6 linked regions of the Homo sapiens genome follow. The protein of the gene in region 1 purifies or fractionates together with the protein of each later gene. This does not show direct contact. Each region holds a gene or a part of one and is shown in the gene's direction. Other genes may lie near its edges. The genes, in order: FLI1, SS18, PHF10, SMARCA2, DPF2 and SMARCC2.

Region 1 (3,500 bases):
TGGAGGGCATGCAGAGTGTGTTTGCCAGCCAGCTTCAGGGCGCCAGGTGGCCATGGGTGGGACTTCACCCCTCCAGACAGCTGCCCATCACCAGTGCTGCAAAATACCAGGTGCTGATCAAGTTCTGTAGTTCTAGGCTAAGTTGGATGATCTGCTTTCTCTCTTGTGAATGTCCATACTGCTTCCACAGTGAGCTTGGGGCCAGGGATGCAAAATGCCACAGGGCCACCACCTCTCCATCAGGTGGAAGTTCCTGGACTCCATTCCTTCTCCAAGTAGCAACCAGCTCTTTTGCATGTGTGCTTGATAGTGAAGCTTAACACAGAAGACCTGAGTCCTGTTTCCACCTTGACTAGCTGTGTGACTGAGCCAGGCAGCCCCTGTCTCGATTTCATTAACCATGAAAAGGAGATAGTAACCCTTGCTGTGCCTATCCTGGGGGCTTATTGGGAAATTCGAATACAACAGTGCATAAGAAATGCATTAAACTTATATATGTGCAATAGAAATAACTCACTGAGAAAGCATTTGCTGCTCACCTCCTGTAAGAATACTAGGGTTAAACAAAGAAAGTGATGACTATCCTCTCAAGAACTCAGCAGTCAGGGGGCGCAGGCCAAGCTGAGAATCAGACAGTGTGACAAGTCCTTATAACCAAGGCGGGCACCAAGTGCTGGGGGACTGTGGGGAAGGCGTGTCTGGGAGCATGGACTAGGTTGCCTGGCAGTGAGGCTAAAAATGTAAGCTGCAGTCAGACAGGGAGGGCTGCGATGCCACACAAAGAAGCTCAGACCTTGGTCTGAGGGCACTGAGGCGCTGCCAGCAGTTTTTACGTACTGTAATTATAGGATTGGGCTGGGATTTGAAGAAAACTCTGGTGGCAGCATGGAGGATAGAAAGAGGGCATCATCATCATCATGACACCAAGTGTGGCCGGGCAATGGCTCCATGCTCATCATCGGAGCCCTGGGCTCATGATTCAGAGGCTGAGGCAAGCTGCCCTGTCAGTGCTGACCGCCTCTGGGCTTTGTCTCTTCTCACTTTAGGGAGTCTCCGGTGGACTGCAGCGTTAGCAAATGCAGCAAGCTGGTGGGCGGAGGCGAGTCCAACCCCATGAACTACAACAGCTATATGGACGAGAAGAATGGCCCCCCTCCTCCCAACATGACCACCAACGAGAGGAGAGTCATCGTCCCCGCAGGTAATTCGAGAACCAGGCTGCCTGGGCGCCATTCACTTCCCCACTCTCTGGGGGGGCAGGGAGCATCTAAACCTTTATCTGATACTCTATTCCCTGTGGAATTGCAAAATGGAGAAAGCTGCACGCCAGCCGGGAGTGGTGGCTCGCGCCTGTAATCCCAGCACTTTGAGAGGCCAAGACGGGTGAATCACTTGTCAGGAGTTCAAGACCAGCCTAGCCAACGTGGTGAAACCTCATCTCTACTAAAAAAAAAAAAAAATACAAAAATTAGCCAGGTGTGGTAGTGGACGCTTATATTCCCAGCTACTCAGGGGGCTGAAGCAGGAGACTCGCTTTAACCGGGAAGGCGGAGGTTGCAGGGAGCCAAGATCACACCACTGCACTCCAGCCTGGGTGATGGAATGAGACTCTGTCTCAAAAAAAAAAAAAAAAAAAAAAAGCTGCACATTTTACCTGACTTCCTAGCTGCCCTTTAAGGCAGTATCCCAGATGTCACCTGATGTGTGGGTGCTAGAAGCCCCACCCTTAAACAGACCACATCACAGACTCTACATCAATGGCCTGGTCCTCAAGGACGGGCTGCTCAGAGAGCAGAGGCAAGGCCGCCTCCACCCAAAAGGAATCCCGTGAGCTCTGGATGTGGGCATCCCTGCCTGTGAGGAGGAGGTCAGCTGCAGAGGCCAGTCCTTCCCTCCAGGCTCGTACTTCCCGGCATCTACCAGGTTCCACCTTTCCAAAATTACAGCCAGCTCTTTCAGTTTTAAAATAGAAAGAACTATATTTAACTAATGGAGTGCCTTAACATGTGTGCCACAAGTTATGTCATTAGGTAAAAATAGCCTCTTTTTCCTAGGTGTTGGTGCTGTTGGTCCCAGAAAATAAAATCATCGTTCAGTCCTTCAGTCCATTGGCTGGACACTCCACCCCAGCTAGCACCAGCAAGCTCAGCTGCCTGCACAAGAAGGGTGTTTACAAACTGCCACGTGTAGAACTGGTGCCAGGTAGAAGGGGCAAGGATGTCCAAATCTTAAGCAAAGTGATTACAGGGCAGGGATTAAACCTGATCTTACCAAAATAACTTTACCAGAGAGGCAAAACTCCTTCCATTTGTAAAAGCATAAATGTAGTTGCCTCTGAAGTCAAAAGGTTAGACATCTCTTTGAGGTAGTCCGAAGGCATCTGCTTGTAGGTCTAAAGGCAGAAATGTTAAGGGCTGCCTCCTGCCTTGGCCCGTGGTGTTTGTTTTCCCTGGGAAGCTGCATCTCACCATATCCCTGGATTACAGCTGCCTCCCTGTGCTCTGGGCCAAATTCAAGAAGGTGTGAGCAAGAGTGAGGCAGCAGACGGGTGGGGCTTGTAGAAATTTCTCTGTACCCTTTAGGACTTAGAAATGACTCCTAAAGCAATTCTAAGTTTGCTCTTCCACAAGCATCTGACCTAACAAAGGAAGAGGAAGAATCACTTCCATTTATTGAGTGCTTTCTAGGTGCCAGGCACCACGTAAATTGCTTTATCTCCATGGCATTACTTAAAACACCTGTCACAGGAGACCAGCTAGTAATGTTTAGCCCAGGTGTATCGTCTCCCTCCTCACTGAAAGCAGACAATGAAACTGTATTAGAACTGACAGGTGGGAATCTCTTTGTACAGCCCAAAGCAAAGCTGAGCCTCACTGGGTCTTCACTCAAATGGTTTCAAACTCCCCTGCTTCAGTCAAACAGCTCCCAGCCTGGGAGGGAAAGCTTGCTGGACTGAAGGGTTTGGGGATCTGAGATTGTCTTTGAACCAACCTTTGGCACCATCTCATTTTGGTCGTCATTTTGGGGAAGGAATCTTGGAAATGGGCAGAAGTGGCCAGACTGCTATGTCGACCCTCCAAACTTTCTTTGATCAGTGTTGAAATGCTTTCAAAAGGAATAGCAAAACATCAGGCTTGGCTGAGCCAAGTTACCTATAGCGCTGGTGGTGAAAATAAAACAAATTCATGTCAAATGATTTTCAAAGCACTTTCAGGCTATGGATTTACTTCATTATTTTAGCTCCGGCTAGATCTTTTAGGTCCTCACACATTTTGGCTTCCTCCAGGCCAGGCTGTGGATATGAGGGGAAGTCTCATTTGGGCAAGTCCACAAATCAAGGCAATAAAATATTAGTGGAATAACCGATTGAATTTATGATGGGATTTAAAGACAAGTATAAATGTGGGCCCTAGTTAATCACTAGCTCCATGTTCAGATGGGAAGAAACTAGGACTAAATCATCCAGGAAATGCATTTGGAAGAGTTTAGCATGATCCAGA
Region 2 (3,500 bases), on another chromosome or scaffold:
TGGGGGTGGTGGCTCACGCCTATAATTACAGCACTTTGGGAAGCTAAGGCAGGAGGATTGCTTGAGCCCAGGAGTTGAAGACCAACCTGGGCAACAAAGCGAGACCCCCACCTCTACAAAAAACTAGCCAGGCATGATGGCATGTGCCTGTAGTCCCAGCTCTTCAGGAGGCTGAGGCAGAAGATTGCATGAACCCAGGAGGTCGAGGCTGCAGTAAGTTGTGATTGTGTCACTATACTCCAGGCTGAGTGACAGAGCTAATATCCTGTCCCCCCAAAAAAGTGCAGCCATCACCACCCTCTAATTTTAAAACATTTTCACCAGCCTGATAAACTGTATACCTATTAGCAGTCACTCCTCATTCCCCTTTAACTACTCAGCCTTAAATACTTAAATACTCATTCTGTAATTTCGTTTTCAAATATTTGGAGATTTTCCAGCAACAGTAGTTTACTTTCTATCTCTATAGATTTGCCTATTCAGTACATTTAAGATAAATGGAATCATACAATATGTGGAGTTTTGTGACTGGTGTTTTGTTTTTTTTACTTAAAATAATATTTTCAAGGTTCGTCTGTGTAGCGTGTATCAGTGTCTTCAAGTGATAGTATGCCTATACATAGTGTAAGAACCTTAAGGTAGTCTGCTTTTCTTCTCTTTGTGTTATTGTTACAAATTTTACTTCTGTATACGTTATAAACCCCACAGTGTATTGAATTTATTTTTGTCTAAAAAAATCAGTTAAAGATACTTAAATAATAAGGAAAAAAAAATTTTTAAATTGACCCATGTAGTTACCGTTTTTGGTACTCTTCATTATTTATGTATGGATTCATATTACTATGTGGTATCATTTTTGTTTGCCTGAAGGATGTTAACATTTCTTGAAATGCAGGTGTACTGGTAATAATCAGCTTTTGTATGTCTGAAAAAAATGTTTATTTTGCCTTTATTTTTGAAAGATATTTTCTCTGGGTATAGAATTCTAGGTGGACAGTTTGTTTTTGTTTTCTTTCCATACTTTAAAGATGCTCCACTCTTTTCTTCCTTACATTGTTTCCAAGGAGACATTTGCTGTCATTTATCTTTGTTCTTTTGTAGTTAATATGTCTTTTTTCTCTGTTTTTAAGATTTTCCCTTTATCAAATTGTTTGATTGAAGAAATTTCTCTCTTGCCCAAATTGTTTTGAGCAATTTGATGAGAGCATGCATTGGTGTTGATTTCTTCATGTTTCTTATGCTTGGAGTTTGTTGAGTGTTATCTCAGACTTTGTCATTTTCATCTCTACAAGTTTGGTTTAGGTCTTTTTAATATCTTCCGTGTCTGTCCTTAATTGTTTTGAACATATGGAATACAAATATAATTCTTTTAATATCCTCTTCTGCCAACTCTAATAATCTATGTCATTTTAGGGTCAGTTTTAATCAGTTTTTTTTCTCTGTCCTTTGTGTGCGTGATAATCTTTGATTGGATTCCAGACATTGTGAATTTTATGTTGGGTGATGAAGATATATGTATACCTAGAGATATTCTTAAGCTTTGCTTTGGGATTCAGTTTAATAAGTTACAAACAGTTTGAACTTTCTGAAATTGCTTTTAAGATATTCTAGGCAGGACAAAGAGCAGTGTTTAGTCCTGGGCTAAATACTCATCACTGATAAGGTAAGAGCCTTTTGGGTGTTTTGCCCAATGCCCTTTGAATTGTAAGGCTTTTTACTCTGACTGGTGGGAATAAGCACTGATTCTGTTCCTATGTGACAAACAAGTATTGTTTCCCCTAATCCTTTTGGGTGTTTCTTGCCTCAGCCCTGGGTATTTTCCTCACACATTTGCATATCTGTACTATGCTGAATAGGAGGAGGGTTCCTCTGCACATCTCCACAGTTGTCTCTTTAGGCAGATCTTTCTTGTAGGGTACTCTGTCCTGTTAACTCTAGCTACCTTTTTCTCTCCAGACTCTAAGCCTTATCTCCTTAAGTCAGAACATCTGGCAGACTCAGCCTCAGTTCCCCTTCGTGCACTGCAGACTGGAAACTCTCAAGGTAGTTAGCTGTGGTAGTCAGAGGGCTGGCCTCATTTGTTTACCATGTCTCAGGGATCATTGTCCTTTGTTGGCTCTGTCCTGTGTGTCCTGAATATGATTATCATATGCTTTGTGTAGTTTTTTTTTTTTTTATTGTTTCAGGCTGCCAGATAAATCCATCTTGAATAGAAACATGCATTAATTTTTCAACATAACATTTCTCTTCATTTGACAGATTATTTTGTTACTGTTTATTGTCATATTCTTCTTCCCCAAGAATGTAACCTCTTTAAAAGCATCGCTTTGTCTGTTTTTATTACTGTTGAGTCTCTGTCACCTAGTAGAGCACAGCACATAATCAGTAAATATTGGTGAATAAAGTATAAACAACTGAGTAAATAAGGCCACTACTTTCTAGATTTGAATGCGTGATCACAAGACCAGAGTTAAGAGGAAACCCCTAAAATGTTGTGAAGGAATAATGTTAAGATTTTAAACTGATTAGGTAAATAGAATGAAGGAAAGAAATGTAAAGATTTTGGTATTGCTCAGATTTCTACCTTAGGAACTCTTCTCATTCAATATACTCTCCCTAGGCATTCTCATTTATTCACAAGGTCTCAGTTCACCATGCTGTTGACTCCCAAATCTCTATTTATAGTCTCAATCTCTCTTCTGGAAATTAGATGCCTACTCGACAGCTCTGCTTAGATGTATCATAGGTATTAATTCAGCAGAAACAAAATAAATTTATAATTTTTTCTACCAAAACTTTTCTGTGTTCTTTATCAAAGAGAGGGGTACTATCACCAAGCTAGATTGCCAAGTGCCTGTTTGGTATTTAAGTGTCCCTGCTTTTCCTCCCTTGTCTAATAAATGACAAATGTTATTGATCTTCCTTTTTGAAAAGCTTTTGAACCCATTCATTTCTTTCTAACCTACACCCTTATCTTAGTTTAGACCATGTTCATCTCCTGTCTTCATCGCAGTAGGATCTTCCATACTGTCTTCTTTCCCATTAAAATTCTTTATACTGTAGTCAGAGGAATTTTTTTTAAAAATTGAAGAGCAAAGAGAGAGAAGGTGAGGCTTAGAGTGTTCAAGTGATTTACTCAAGATGACAGAATTCAGGAGTGGTGAAGCTGCATGACTACTGCTGAGTGCTGAAAGCCCATGCTCTGTTCACTGTACCATGCTGCCACCCATACTGTTAATGAGTACTTGAGTAGTTCACAGAGCATTTTCATGTTTTTCTTCTTGAATAACTTTTTAAAATAGAGATTATAATTACCCTTGTCAGATGATAAAATTGAAACTCAGGGAGGTTAAGCAACTTGCCCAAGGATAAGAAGCTGTTAAGTGGTGACGTTAGCACTAGAAATTGGTTTCTGGCTCCAAAAGCCGTACTTTTAATCCTTAATGCCACCTTGGAATTTGTTAATGGTTGCAGATACACAGCCTACCTTTTTAGGCATG
Region 3 (3,500 bases), on another chromosome or scaffold:
TAAATTATAAAATGAAGAATTAAATGATCAGATACTGAGGTCTTAAACCTTGAATATATAAAATATTTCAGATCCTGTTGTAGATAGTTGAGGGATTGGCTCTGCATAGTTTAACATTGTGAAAACACAAATGTGTACTTGAAGGACTTTTTTTTTTTTTTCCTAACTGCAGCGCTTCATTTTTCCTGAAGGACCTTCTTAATGACTTTTAGTACTCAGTGAAAATACCCACACTTATTTGTAACAATATATTTTTGTATGAAACAAATATGTTCCCTTGTGACGGAAAATGATGTTGAAGCTGTGTGCCGTAATAGTAGCTGAAGCGGATAATTGTGTTTTTGTGACTTATGTCAGAAAACAAAGTTGATGAAGGCACTGATATGGAATCAGTTTTATATAATATACTTAGAAGAAGGAGGAATGATTTTTAACATAACTTACTTTAGTCTCCACTGGAAAAAGCTTTCTTACATTTAGAATGATCTTTTTATTTTTAAAATGATAAAGCTTTAAAACTTTCTTTGAATATTTTCCATAGTTTTCAAAATCCAGACTCAAATTTGTCTTAATTCCAAAGAATCTTTGTTTTTGCCTTTTAAACTCCAGGACAGCTCCTCTGGCAATGTATCTGAAGGGGAAAGCCCTCCTGACAGCCAGGAGGACTCTTTCCAGGGAAGACAGAAATCAAAAGACAAAGCTGCCACTCCAAGAAAAGATGGTCCCAAACGTTCTGTACTGTCCAAGTCAGTTCCTGGGTACAAGGTAGAAGAAAAAAGCCCCTGACTCAGCTTCTTTACTGACCAGCCTCTCCCTGAAATATTTTAACTTGACTTTCACGATTGTGGAGCTTCTGCCTGCTGTACCTCACTAGCTGTTCTTCTATGGTGTGCCCTTTGTCCGCTGCTTTCTTTTTTGCTTTATTTCCTTGGTGGCTTTTCTGTCACTTTTGGCTATGGTTTACCTTCTGTTTTCTGTATATGTACAATTTATAAGTCTTTTTTTTTCTTTGAAAGAATAACCAGGCAAGTATGGGTTTTTAAAACATTATTTCATAGGCAGAAGTTTATATTTTCTTTCCTTGGAGTAAAGATCATAATTATTTGGCATTTTAAATGCCCCAGCATTTAGTGTAGCTAAAGCTGCTGAGCTATAAAGTATGAGTGGATATACTGTTAGACTAAGTTGCATTTTTTTTAGTGCCTTTCATTAAGAAAGATCTGGGTTTAATCTAAGGATTATTTGATCCATATGCTAAATTTAGCTAACTCTGGGATAGAAAATAATAAAACCTGTTACTTACATTGTAGTGATTTTTAGCATAACCTTGGTAAAGAGCCTATATGATTCTATGGCAAGAATTAAAACATACTTGTTAACTTGTTGATCTGATTATCCTCAGAGTAAAGGAGTAGGTTGTCAGCAACTATTATTATATTTTGAACTTTTCCTCCCTCTGTCTGCCCCTCCCTTTTCTTCTGAAGAAAAGGTGAGGTGAGAGATGAGTAGCCTTATTTGCATATAGGGATTTAAGAATATCATAAAAGGAAGAATTAGCTGTACAGTTTCATATTTGGGATGGTGGTAGTAAAATAGACTACCTTTTGATTCTTTTGGTCTGAAATGTATTAGAACATGCTTTTATTGCACTTATGAAGGTGTATTGAAGGAAAATTTTAGAGTAAGCTGATGAGAAAGTTTTGCCAAGTGAAATTGTTAAACACCTTGTATGTCAGAACTGTGATTGTGGTAAATAATTCACAAGAACAGGCTGAAGTAAGTCACCTTTCCCTCAAACTAACTAGAACACGTTCTAACATGTTCATTTACCTTTCTTCAAGTAAAAAAAGCGACATTAAGTTAGTGTATTTCATATTTTATTAGGAAATGCTTTTATGTAATTAACTTAAAAATTCTTTTTTTTTTTTGTAGCCTATAGCAAGCAAATTTTAAGCTTAATTCAGCAAGGGTTGGCTTCCAAGGGTGGCTGCAATAGGCTGCAGCTATGTGATTTTTGTACTTGTTTTTACATATATAGCTTATGTAATTTCTTTATATAAATTAATGCTTAATAACTGAAAGCAAGTGAGCTCCAAAGATGAAATTTCAGAAGCAGTATACATGAATGAGTGTGTTCTACTGGTCTGCTAAGAGCTTTAAATGGAAGTGGCCGCTCAAAGCACAGTGTCCTGTTAACTCTTGAGTGCTAAGTAGATCTTTGCAACAGTAAGCTTGATTGATCATGGGTTAAAAAGAGAGAATATTGAAATAGATGTTTTAATACAGGCTGGAAATCAGCTATTCAACACTATCATTGATTTAGTATACAAGAAATCATATGGATTAACTGAACTTAATAGTACTCAAGTAGGATATGCAAAATTTATATTTTACATAATCTGTGAACATTTTTAGTACCTAAAAATGTTTCAGGTATTTCAAAGATGGGAACAACCAGTATCTAGTCATCATACATTAATGTGAACATGCTTATTAAAAGTTAACCTCTTTATAAAAAGTATTAATAAACCAAGATGTGCCTAAATATTAGGGTACTTCAAGCTAAAGGTCATAGTTTATATATAAAAAGTACGAGATTCAAGGAAGTAATGTATCTGATGCTTTGCTTAATAAGATTCACTAGTGCTTGCCCTTAATTCATAGAACAGTATTGTTTAGGTTACATTAACCTGAAATTTAAAGCATAATTATTAGGATTCCGGCCTATAAATACAATAATTAAAATCTATACTATATTATTGCTACCATGAAAGTCTTATCTTTGGCTGTTTTTCAAGTAGAAAAGTAAGTGTACTGTGAGCCTTTTATTTGAGATGCTGAGAGCTATTAGGATGAGTATTTCAGTTTTCTTGTCAATAGTGATACTCTGATGATGTTGCAGTTATTTGAAGTAGAACTGATTGTCTAAACCAGACACACATAGGAGTGTGCTCCATTGGTCTTGTGGAGAGTGCTGCACATTAACCCCTCCCTCAACTGTGCAATCCACTTGAGACTGGCTTCTCTAAGCCACAGTTGTTATCTGCTGTGTAAAGTCCTGGATGCCAGCACTGTGGCTTCTTAGAGAGGGCAGATGCTTTGTATATCGAGCTGCAGCATTCATCGTAGAAAATGCTACAAAGCTGTCTCTCTTCCCCTTCTCTCATGTTTCCCTCTTTTCATCAAGATGAAGGCTGTTGGGTAAGAAAAACTAAGTGATTTAACAAATCATTATGATTTAAACTTAGAAATAAACCTAGAATTTTTTGGTGTCCCTTTTATCATAGGTGTTTAATGTATATTTTAATGATTGTAGAACTTGAATTGCTCTAGAATGTGAATGACTACCCTTGTGTTTTACTCCTTTTGGCTTTTGTTTTGTAAAGAATCTCCTGTGAGGAGTTCTGTTTTTAGAATTTAATATTGTTTGGTTACTTCCCTGACTTTAGTGAAAGATATTAGAGTATTTACTATGCCAGTATCTAACTTAAACTATTAGT
Region 4 (3,500 bases), on another chromosome or scaffold:
TTTCTTGAGCTGATGGGGTAGATAAGGTCTTTGAGATGGGATAAGGTTGCTGTAGGGGGAGGGCAGAGGTGGGGGTGGTGGCATCTGAGCATCCCAGATCAGAAGAAAGCCCCGAGATCACAGAGACCCGGCGAGATCACAGAGACCCGGCCTGAAGGAACGTGGAAAGACCAATGTACCTGTTTTGACCGGTTGCCTGGAGCAAGAAGTTCCAGTTGGGGAGAATTTTCAGAAGATAAAGTCGGAGATTGTGGAAAGACTTGACTTGCAGGTTAAAGCATGAATATTTTATCCAATCTGTATTGGAGGCTTGTCTCAGAAGTTTTGAACAAGGGAATACATGAACAAAGCAATATTTTAGATTAATCTGGCAAATTGTGGATTCAAGTCCAGAGTGGGAATTGAAGCTGTTAGAAGGATCCTGGCAATAATGCGAGCATATAGTAGCTCACAAGGTGTCTTCATATCTCATATTTTATTTGATTCGTATCAAAATTGAAGTTGTAGTCAGCTACTGTTATGCCTATTTTGTAGGTAAGGAGCTTGAAACTCAGAGAGGTTAAATGAACTCATTTGTTGATTTTTTAAAAGGCATAGTAACATCATTAATGGCTATTATCCATTTTAACTGCAATGAACTTGGAGTTCATTGTTGAATTGTTGTTGCTACTGTGAAAGTCAGGGCCAGTTGACATTAATGAGTGCCTATGATAGAACTTTAGTTCATTCAGCATATGATGGTTGAGTTTTACTCTTCAGTAAAAATGTGCCATTTTAACCACAGGTTTTTAAAGTATGTATTTCAGACTCTTCTTTTTATATGTTTAAAGTATAAATAAACTTATCTTGGCAGTCAGAAAAGGAAGTGGCTGTTGTTGATTCTTATCAACATCCAGAATGAGGTTGCTTTGCAAAAGGGCCTAACCTAGGAGAGACAGGCATATGTGTAAATATACGTGACATATTACCTTTCAGGGTGTCATGATTTGAAACTAACTTTTTTTTGTTCAGTTTGTTAGCTTTTGTTTTGACCAGTTTGCCCAGCCCTTTGGGTTCCACTGAATTTTAAAAGTGATTTTCATCTGTGATTACCTTTATAACTACTAATGGACATGAGTCTCAGAGTAGAGGATGCTTTGCTCTAAAGGGTTTCTAACACTTAGGTTTTCTCGTAAATTCCCTTTTTAAAACAATTTTTCCTTTGTGGGATCACTGTCAGTCCTCATGGAAGAGGCCATGAAATTGCATCGCTGGTAGACTCTTTTGAGATGGCAACTCATGGTATCTATAAGGGTGGTAATGTTAAGAGCCAGGATCCTATTAAGGCAGTGTCTGAGGTTCATGGGGGACTAATTAGCTGCTGCCGAGTTTGTTGTTATCTTTTGTTGTGCACAGAGCTGCCTCACAGCCTTTGCCAGGTCTGACTCTGGGCAAGGACCATTCCCAAGGCAGTTTATTTAAAGTGAGGGTAGCAGCTCACCCACATCCTAATTTGTTGCCCTGATTGAAAGATGAAGGAGAGTTCACAGAAGCCCAAGGAACAGAGCAAAGTTTTAATCTAACAACTTTTAAAAAACATATTTGACTTTGAAACGAATGGGAAAGTGTTGTGAATAACCCCAAGAATGCTGAAGAAATGTTCTCAGTGATTTTCTAGGGTCTTGATGGAGCAACTTATAAGGTTAACTTTAGAACCCGGTGTGATTTGTATCTGACAGATCACATTATGCATTGTTTAAAGTTGCACAGCTCAGACCAAGAAGCAGTGTGGGCCTTGGTAATGTTTCACCGCTTATCCCGACAACCTTGGCCTGTAAAAAGGAAACTTCGGGTAGATTTATTTCCTTTATCTGCATTGCTGTTCTCCTTACCCACCCCGCACTGCTTCCCCATTAAGAATAACAGTGCTTGAGGCCCAGTTCTGAAGATGTTGCTACTTCTTGTGGGTGAATTATCAATTCATTTACAGAGAAAGCCACATACAAAACAAGAGGCAGCCCTTCAGGTCAGGGGAGATGTTCTGAATCAGCAAACAGACATAAAAAGAACTCTTATCTTAACTATCTCCTGAACCTTGCAGTTCTCCTGTAACAGCCAGAACACTTTAATAAGACTGGGATATTCTTGGAGATGTGGACTGGGCCTAACTTTTATTTCTGATATTCCACCTTTAACCTGGACCTCCAAGTTTTTCTGTAAAGTGAGCTGTGAAAAAAGACAGGCTGGAGATCCAAGATTTCCTTGTGCTTTCTTATGAAGTTTGGTGAAGAGCAATTTAAGAGATATTGTCAAGGTTGGTGTGCTGCCCCAAACTCTGCGACTAGAAACCAAAAGTTTCTAGGGAACTTTTTTTCTTTTTTTTAAACTTGAAGGCCTTGCTGAAATGCTACCTTCTCCATTACACTTTACCTAATTCCTTTCTCTCCTGTAACCTCTGAGCTAAAGGTAATGTCTCCCATTCTATGACTGTGTTGGATAGTTTGGCTGTACCCCTCCGTGTCCTGCAGGATCTTTCAATATTTTTATCTTGTTGCTACTTACGCACAAGTCTGATTTCCGTATCAGACTTCCAGAGTTGTGGGGTAAGCCTTCTATTCATTTTTGTACCGCCTGCATGCCTTGTACCTAGTAGATACTCGGTATGGTAACTAAAACATCATCGACCTTTTCAGTTGATGACATGGTCTTCTTTTCACATTCCAGGGCTTCTCTTTACTTCTCTAGCCTGTGGTAAGTTAATATATTATCACAACCAAAGCCTAGTCCTTGCAAGATATCCCTTCCACTGTTTCTGACCTTTTTTTCTTTGGCTTCTACTTTCTACCCCTGCACATTGCTCTGGCCTGGTGAAAACTCTGGTGGAAACATGGCTTGCTAGATCCGTGTCATAGCTCAGTGTTGGGCTGGGAGTCAAGGGATAAAAGATTCTGCCTGCGGTTTCTCTCCTGTTGCAGATGTTACTTTGGGCAAGCCATGTTTTCCCCTTCTGCCTTATTGCCCTCATCTTTTCAATGGCGTTGTGGCAAAATGTCTCTTCAAATCACCAGAATTATTAGGAAACACATGTAGGTGTGTTCAAATATTACTCCACATGTGGGGGTCTTTGGTGTTTCTGTTGGTTACAATTAGACTGTAAGACACAAGTTTTGTCATGGTTGGAGTGGTGACCCTTAAAATTCCATGAAGTTGAACTCCTTTTAATATGCAGATGGCTGTGCTGAGCCTTTCAGCTAAGGGCAGAGGAGATTTGGGCTGAGGGAGGATGACTGTGGTGTTTGGAGCTCTGGCAAGCTCCTCTGGGGCCTCTTCTTTTTAAAAACACACACTCTCTAGTTGTGAATGTAGGAAAGTGGGAAGTAAGGACGAAATCAAGACAGAGTATACTGCTGAGAAATTCTTGCCTAAGAACATAGTGGTTTGGCCCTCGGGGAGTCCTGGTCTGGGGGAGGGTGGGGACCAGCAATGCATGTGTATGGGGAGGTTGCTGTGCCCCCCTCTCC
Region 5 (3,500 bases), about 63 Mb from region 1:
AGGCTGAGGCGGGCGGATCACAAGGTCAGGAGTTTGAGACCAGCCTGGCCAAGGTGGTGAAACCCGTCTCTAGTAAAAATACAAAAATTAGCTGGGCATGGTGGCGTGCACCTGTAGTCCCAGCTACTCAGGAGGCTGAGGCAGAAGAATCGCTTGAACCCAGGAGAGATCACACCACTGCACTCCAGCCCAGGCGACAGAGCGAGACTCCGTCTCAAAAAAAGAGAGAAAGTCTTTAAGCGTTCTTACTAGGAAAGTAAAATAATAGTATAGCTGTAGCTGCTGATTGGTTTTGAAACTTTCTAGGCAAAATCTAGAGGCAGGGCGCGGTGGCTTACACCTGTAATCCCAGAACTTTGGAAGGCCGAGGTGGGCGGATCATGAGGTCAGGAGTTCGAGACCAGCTTGGCCAACATGGTGAAACCCTGTCTCTACTAAGAATACAAAAATTAGCTGGGCGTGGTGGCGCATGCCACTCGGGAGCCTGAGGCAAGAGAATCGTTGGAACCCGGGAGGCAGAAGCTGCAGTAGGCAGAAGCTGCAGTGAGCCGAGATTGCACCACTGCATTCTAACCTGGGCGGCAAAGCAAGACTCTATCTCAAAAAAAAAAAAAAAAAAAAAAATATATATATATATATATATATATATATATAGAGAGAGAGAGAGAGAGAGAGAGAGAGAGAGAGAGAGAGAGAACAATGTTAATGTTAACTTGACATTTCTTGGTATCGGAGCCTTAAGTTTTTGTTATTGCTTTTTTTTGTTTTAAGAGACAGAGCCTCCCTCTGTCCCCCAGGCTGAAGTGCAGTGGTATAACCTTGGTTTACTGCACCCTCAACTTCCTAGGCTCAAATGATTCCCCTACCTCATCCGCCCCAGGGGCTACGTGGAACCACAGGCATGCATCACTAAGCCTAGCTGATGGTTTTTTTGTTTGTTTGTTTTGTTTTTTTTAATTTTATTTTTTTTGAGACAGAGTTTCGCTCTTGTTGCCCAGGCTGGAGTGCAATGGCGCAATCTCGGCTCACCGCAACCTCCGCCTCCCAGGTTCAAGCAATTCTTCTGCCTCAGCCTCCCCCGTAGCTGGGATTATGGTCATGTACCACCACGCCCGGCTAATTTTGTATTTTTAGTAGAGACAGGGTTTCTCCATGTTGAGGCTGGTCTCGAACTCCTGACCTCAGGTGATCCGTCCACCTCAGTCTCCCAAAGTGCTGGGATTACAGGCGTGAGCCACTGCGCCAGGCCTTTTTTATTTTTATTTTTTAACGTTTTGTAGAGATGGGATCTCACTATGTTGCCCAAGCTGGTCTCTAACTCTTGGTCTCAAGAGATCCACCAGCCTTGGCCTCCCAAAGTGCTGGGATTATAAGCATGAGCTACTGTGCCCGGCCTCCCTTAAGTTCTTAAGAGCTCACTGTCATGCTGTCTTGTTCTCTCTTCATGAGATTCTCCCCCCACACTTCAGTGTTTCCTTCCCAGCCCTTTTACCCCCAAGACTGTTTGCCTGCCTTATGTAGCTCACAAGAGCCCTGACAGAACATCTCTCATTCATTCCCCGCAAAACTGTTTCCAGCCTCCTTGCTCTGACTTTGCAGCACTCGCCAGCCTGGCCCTGCCTTCCATTTGACTTCCAGTGTCCGTATCAATTCCCATCAGCAGAAACAAAGGAGCTGCCGCACTCAACCTTGTTTATCCAATTTTATTCTGTGTGGTGAAGACGTGGCTGCCTCCTAAAGGCGAGCCCACAGAGGCAAGGCTGCCTTCTCCATTCTGCTCTCCAACGTGAGATTCGTGCCTACCTCAGATTACAGTCATTACAGCTCATTGAATCACGCCAGGCTATATTTGTGGCATTGCCGTCTCTGTGTGTCGTATGTGTCTTTTTTACTTGCTGGGCACATGCTAAGTTATGCAGTGGTCTATTGTGGCTGCTCACTGAAGGACCCTGTCACATTCTAGAGCAGGGTTTGTTGGTGTAGCCCGAGTTACGGACAGAAACCACAGAGACTTAATCTGTTTGCTGTCTCATCCCCAGGCTGTTTCTTGTAAAATCCTGATATGTCAAAGCTCATTTGGTCCAACCTCCTCAATCTATAGAAGAGTAACCAAGGTCCACCTGGGCTGACTAAGTGTCCATGTTCGTGTGACTTGCAGGCAAGCCAGGTCTTTTTACTCTCAAGTCAAGTCTGACTGTATCTCAGACATCGTCATGAGTATTAGGGATACTATGAGAAATAAATCAATTCTGCCCTTGGTTTAAGATTGATTGACGCCAGGTACTGTGACACATGCCTCTATTCCCAGATACTTGGGAGGCTAAGGCAGGAGGATCACTTGAGCCAGGAGTTTGTGTCCAGCTTGGGCAACATAGTGAGACCTTGTCTCTTAAAAAAAAAAAAAAACAAGATTGATTGAATATAAGATCGAGTTTGTTAACCTCCATTACCAAAGTCCTTGTTAAACCCTGCAAGATGAGAACAAGATAGGTTCTATATACACGCTTCTTAGAACCAGATAACTCCTGGCACTGTGCAGTTTTCCAGTTTTCCACTTAAAGATTTACCCTTGATTCAGATTTCAAATTGAGTCTTTTGAGACCAAGAAGATTTTTTCCTATATAATTTTATTTTGTGAGAATGGAGAAGAACCCTAAGATGGGCCTTAGAGCAAACAAGTTTCTTATGAGTGATGGTGCTCAATAAAAGCTTCAAGGAACTTCAGGTACTTGTAGACATCTTCCATAAATGTAAAATTAATTAGTTGATTAAAAACCTAGTTCAAAATTCAAAAGATATAAAAAGGCATATGGAAGGAAGTGGCCTAGTCACCCACTTTTTCTCCCCGCTGACCTGCAGTTTCTTTTCCATTTTGTTACATAAATGATAGTTTTATTTGACGCTTCTCAGCAGTGTACCTTGCTTTGCTTTTTGTCCCTAGTTAACTTGAAATTGTTTAATATCAGTATGTGAAGAGCTTCCTTCTTATGGCTAAGTAGAATTTCATTGTATGGATTTACCATAGTTTGCTAAATACATTTTAATAAGTCCCCTAGACTTTGAACTCTTTCCCTCTGGAGCAGACCTTGGGGCAAGGATGTGGGAGCATGTAGTTTATTTGGGAGGTGATTCTAGGAAAGAGGGAATAAGGAGGAACTTAGGAGGGACTATCATCTGCTTCTTAGCCTCATAAGGGTTAAGAGAAATAGCATCTTAACTAGCACAGGGGTGGGCTTGTGAGACACGTGGAGTGAACATTCTTTCACCTCTTTGGGGGTTAAACTTAAGTCTGATTAGACATATGATGAAATCATGTGTTCCTGATGGTAATTTATTTGTAAAGTAATTCCTCATGATGGCCTAGAAAAGGGGCTTCGTGTCCCATGAGGCAGAAGTGGAGGCAAATAGAACGGAAGAGACAGCCACCCAGTCCCTTGAGCCTTCTAGAGAAGCAGATGGCAGGGGAGAGGAATAGCTCAGCACCCTATGCCCCCCGCTCC
Region 6 (3,625 bases), on another chromosome or scaffold:
TCTGTAGTCCCTGCTCCTGCTGGCAGTGGGGCCCCTCCAGGAAGTTTGGGCCCTTCTGAACAGATTGGGCAGGCAGGGTCAACTGCAGGGCCACAGCAGCAGCAACCAGCTGGAGCCCCCCAGCCTGGGGCAGTCCCACCAGGGGTTCCCCCCCCTGGACCCCATGGTAAGTGTTATGTTCCAGAACTTTTGTTGGCTAGAGGAATCCAGGTGAATGTCCCAGTTCTCCTCAAAGGGGATACAAGATGAGTGTGGAGATGAGGTTAGCCTCAATTTCTACAGATGGGCCCATCTCTCTTAGGCCCCTAAATCAGCAGGAGTCCTTCCCCAAACTCGAGAGCTTTGGAATTTTATTCACTTACTCTAGTGTCAGAAAAGGGGAAGATAGTGCCAAGGAATGGCTAGATTATCCTTGTTTGTAAAAGTGAGTTATTCTTTGGGAGGCCGAAATGGGTGGATCACGAGGTCAGGAGATTGAGACCATCCTGGCCAACATGTTGAAACCCCGTCTCTAGTAAAAATACAAAAATTAGCTGGGCGTGGTGGTGCGTACATGTAGTACCAGCTACTCGGGAGGCTGAGGCAGGAGATTGCTTAAACCCGGGAGGCGGAGGTTGCAGTGAGCCAAGATCGTGCCACTGCACTCCAGCCTGGTGACAGAGTGAGACTCCGTCTAAAAAAAAAATAGAAAAGGTGAGTTGTTAAGCAAAATTTTATACCTAATTTTCTCCATCTCTCATCTTTATTCTCAGGCCCCTCACCGTTCCCCAACCAACAAACTCCTCCCTCAATGATGCCAGGGGCAGTGCCAGGCAGCGGGCACCCAGGCGTGGCGGGTAATGCTCCTTTGGGTTTGCCTTTTGGCATGCCGCCTCCTCCTCCTCCTCCTGCTCCATCCATCATCCCATTTGGTAGTCTAGCTGACTCCATCAGTATTAACCTCCCCGCTCCTCCTAACCTGCATGGGCATCACCACCATCTCCCGTTCGCCCCGGGCACTCTCCCCCCACCTAACCTGCCTGTGTCCATGGCGAACCCTCTACATCCTAACCTGCCGGCGACCACCACCATGCCATCTTCCTTGCCTCTCGGGCCGGGGCTCGGATCCGCCGCAGCCCAAAGCCCTGCCATTGTGGCAGCTGTTCAGGGCAACCTCCTGCCCAGTGCCAGCCCACTGCCAGGTGAGAAGGGGCCAAGAGGGGAGAAGGGTGAGGGAGAGGGGTCCACCTGGAGGGAGGGTGAGCGGGCAGGTGGGGAAGAGGTCAGGTATTAGAGTTTCCACAATCCTTTTTGAACACTCTGGTAAAATTAGAATACAGGAGGAAGGGCCTCTCTGGCCGTCCTCCACCATTCCCCAGCCTGGCAGCTGCCACCTTTGGGATGATGTTGGGGCCTTTCACTGGTGGGTCATGGAGCAATCCTGTGGCAGAGAGCATCTCAGTTGTAAACTTGAAAAGCAGCTGTTTGCATGATGATTGAGTGGCATCCCTTTGCTTATTCCTATCACGTTCAAATGCCCCATATAGAGAGTCTTTCTATATGTTTTTCTGAGTATGAGGTAGAAAAGAGTGTTGGGAACAGAAGTTGAACATTATGGGTACCTCATTCATCCACCCAGCCACTGCATGCCATGCCCGGTTCTGTCTGTCTGTGGTGGTCTGGGTCTGGAGCCATCTCTCCGGCGTACTCTAACTGATTTATCTTCCTTTTCTCCACAGACCCAGGCACCCCCCTGCCTCCAGACCCCACAGCCCCGAGCCCAGGCACGGTCACCCCTGTGCCACCTCCACAGTGAGGAGCCAGCCAGACATCTCTCCCCCTCACCCCCTGTGGACATCACGGTTCCAGGAACAGCCCTTCCCCCACCACTGGGACCCTCCCCAGCCTGGAGAGTTCATCACTACGTAAGGAAAGCTCCTTCCGCCCCTCCAAAGCCCTCACCATGCCTAACAGAGGCATGCATTTTTATATCAGATTATTCAAGGACTTCTGTTTAAAAGATGTTTATAATGTCTGGGAGAGAGGATAGGATGGGAATGCTGCCCTAAAGGAAGGGCTGGTGAAAGGTGTTTATACAAGGTTCTATTAACCACTTCTAAGGGTACACCTCCCTCCAAACTACTGCATTTTCTATGGATTAAAAAAAAAAAAAAAAAGTAGATTTTAAAAAGCCACATTGGAGCTCCCTTCTACCCACTAAAAAATAACCAATTTTTACATTTTTTGAGGGGGAGTGAGTTTTAGGAAAGGGGAATTAAGATTCCAGGGAGAGCTCTGGGGATAGAACAGGGCGCAGATTCCATCTCTCCCCAAGCCCCTTTTTAGTGACTAAGTCAAGGCCCCAACTCCCCTCCCCCACCCTACGCTGAGCTTATTCGAGTTCATTCGTACTAATAATCCCTCCTGCGGCTTCCTCATTGTTGCTGTTTTAGGCCACCCCAGCTCAGCCAATGATTCCTTTCCCTCTGAATGTCAGTTTTGTTTTTAAAAGTCACTTGCTTAGTTGATGTCAGCGTATGTGTATTTGGTGGGGAAAACCTAATTTCGGGGATTTCTGTGGTAGGTAATAGGAGAAGAAAGGGCACTGGGGGCTGTTCTCCTTCCTTCCCTGGGCTGTATCCATGGACTCCTGGAAGGCACAGAGAAGGGAGCTATAAGAGGATGTGAAGTTTTAAAACCTGAAATTGTTTTTTAAAGCACTTAAGCACCTCCATATTATGACTTGGTGGGTCACCCCTTAGCTTCCTCCCTCTCCCACCAAGACTATGAGAACTTCAGCTGATAGCTGGGGGCTCCCCAGATGAGGATGCAGGGATTTGGGAGCAGTGGAAGAGGGTGCCCAACCTTGGGTTGGACCAACCCTTGGCTCGCAGCTCAACTCTGCTTCCCGCATTCCTGCTCCACGTGTCCCAGCTTCTCCCCTGTGACGGGAAGGCAGGTGTGACTCCAGGCTCTGCACTGGTTCTTCTTGGTTCCTCCCACCAGGCCCTTTGTTCCTCATGTCCCCATGTTTCTCTCCCTCTGCGTCTTAGCACCTTTCTTCTGTTCAAAGTTTTCTGTAAATTTTCTCTTTTTTTCTTTCTTTCTTTTTTTTTTTTTTATAAATTAATTTGCTTTCAGTTCCATCTTGTGGGTGCATTCTGTGTTCTTACCTGTGGCTGTCAGGCAGGGGGATTGTGATGGGAGCAGCTTTCCTGGAGTCCTTCACAGCGGCGTTTACCTGGGCCGAAAGACACTCTGCAAGCCACACGGCCTACAGACACTGCGCCTCCCCACAAAACACGAACGGCAGCACAACTGTCGAGACTATGTGCTGGTATAGGAGCAGAGGCTCTCACCTGCCCTAAAAGCTGTTTAAGACTTGGAAGGACATTCCCACAACATGGAATTTTGTATCTCTGTCCCTTCAGAAGTAGTGGTTTCACTCCTTCCCTTATTAGAGAGGAGGCAAGCCCCTTACCTACTTTTGTTATAATTGGCCCTTCACCCTGCTGAGGTGACGGACAGGCTTAGGCAGTGCTAATAATGGCCTGGCTTTAGCTCCAATAAACACTCCACAGGCTTCCCCACAAAAGGCCTTATTGGGAGCTTGGGAGGGCGGGGGCCAGATTTAAGGAGCTGGAAG

What was found.
Region 2: the proteins of FLI1 (region 1) and SS18 purify together in Homo sapiens (affinity purification with western blotting, with the first as the bait; one study listed by BioGRID). This does not show direct contact.
Region 3: the proteins of FLI1 (region 1) and PHF10 purify together in Homo sapiens (affinity purification with mass spectrometry, with the first as the bait; one large-scale study listed by BioGRID). This does not show direct contact.
Region 4: the proteins of FLI1 (region 1) and SMARCA2 purify together in Homo sapiens (affinity purification with mass spectrometry, with the first as the bait; one large-scale study listed by BioGRID). This does not show direct contact.
Region 5: the proteins of FLI1 (region 1) and DPF2 purify together in Homo sapiens (affinity purification with mass spectrometry, with the first as the bait; one large-scale study listed by BioGRID). This does not show direct contact.
Region 6: the proteins of FLI1 (region 1) and SMARCC2 purify together in Homo sapiens (affinity purification with mass spectrometry, with the first as the bait; one large-scale study listed by BioGRID). This does not show direct contact.

The regions. Positions count from the first base shown.
Region 1 is NC_000011.10:128,767,072-128,770,571, forward strand, and holds part of FLI1 (Friend leukemia integration 1 transcription factor), read left to right. Parts: intron 1-1,046; coding exon 1,047-1,201; intron 1,202-3,500. UniProt on the Homo sapiens protein: Sequence-specific transcriptional activator. Recognizes the DNA sequence 5'-C[CA]GGAAGT-3'.
Region 2 is NC_000018.10:26,021,114-26,024,613, reverse strand, and holds part of SS18 (protein SSXT), read left to right. Parts: intron 1-3,500. UniProt on the Homo sapiens protein: Appears to function synergistically with RBM14 as a transcriptional coactivator. Isoform 1 and isoform 2 function in nuclear receptor coactivation. Isoform 1 and isoform 2 function in general transcriptional coactivation.
Region 3 is NC_000006.12:169,707,501-169,711,000, reverse strand, and holds part of PHF10 (PHD finger protein 10), read left to right. Parts: intron 1-609; coding exon 610-765; intron 766-3,500. UniProt on the Homo sapiens protein: Involved in transcription activity regulation by chromatin remodeling. Belongs to the neural progenitors-specific chromatin remodeling complex (npBAF complex) and is required for the proliferation of neural progenitors.
Region 4 is NC_000009.12:2,021,847-2,025,346, forward strand, and holds part of SMARCA2 (SWI/SNF-related matrix-associated actin-dependent regulator of chromatin subfamily A member 2), read left to right. Parts: intron 1-98; exon of another isoform or gene 99-271; intron 272-3,500. UniProt on the Homo sapiens protein: ATPase involved in transcriptional activation and repression of select genes by chromatin remodeling (alteration of DNA-nucleosome topology).
Region 5 is NC_000011.10:65,336,852-65,340,351, forward strand, and holds part of DPF2 (zinc finger protein ubi-d4), read left to right. Parts: intron 1-3,500. UniProt on the Homo sapiens protein: Plays an active role in transcriptional regulation by binding modified histones H3 and H4. Is a negative regulator of myeloid differentiation of hematopoietic progenitor cells. Might also have a role in the development and maturation of lymphoid cells.
Region 6 is NC_000012.12:56,161,859-56,165,483, reverse strand, and holds the end of SMARCC2 (SWI/SNF complex subunit SMARCC2), read left to right. Parts: coding exon 1-166; intron 167-752; coding exon 753-1,181; intron 1,182-1,718; coding exon 1,719-1,795; 3' UTR 1,796-3,125; downstream 3,126-3,625. UniProt on the Homo sapiens protein: Involved in transcriptional activation and repression of select genes by chromatin remodeling (alteration of DNA-nucleosome topology).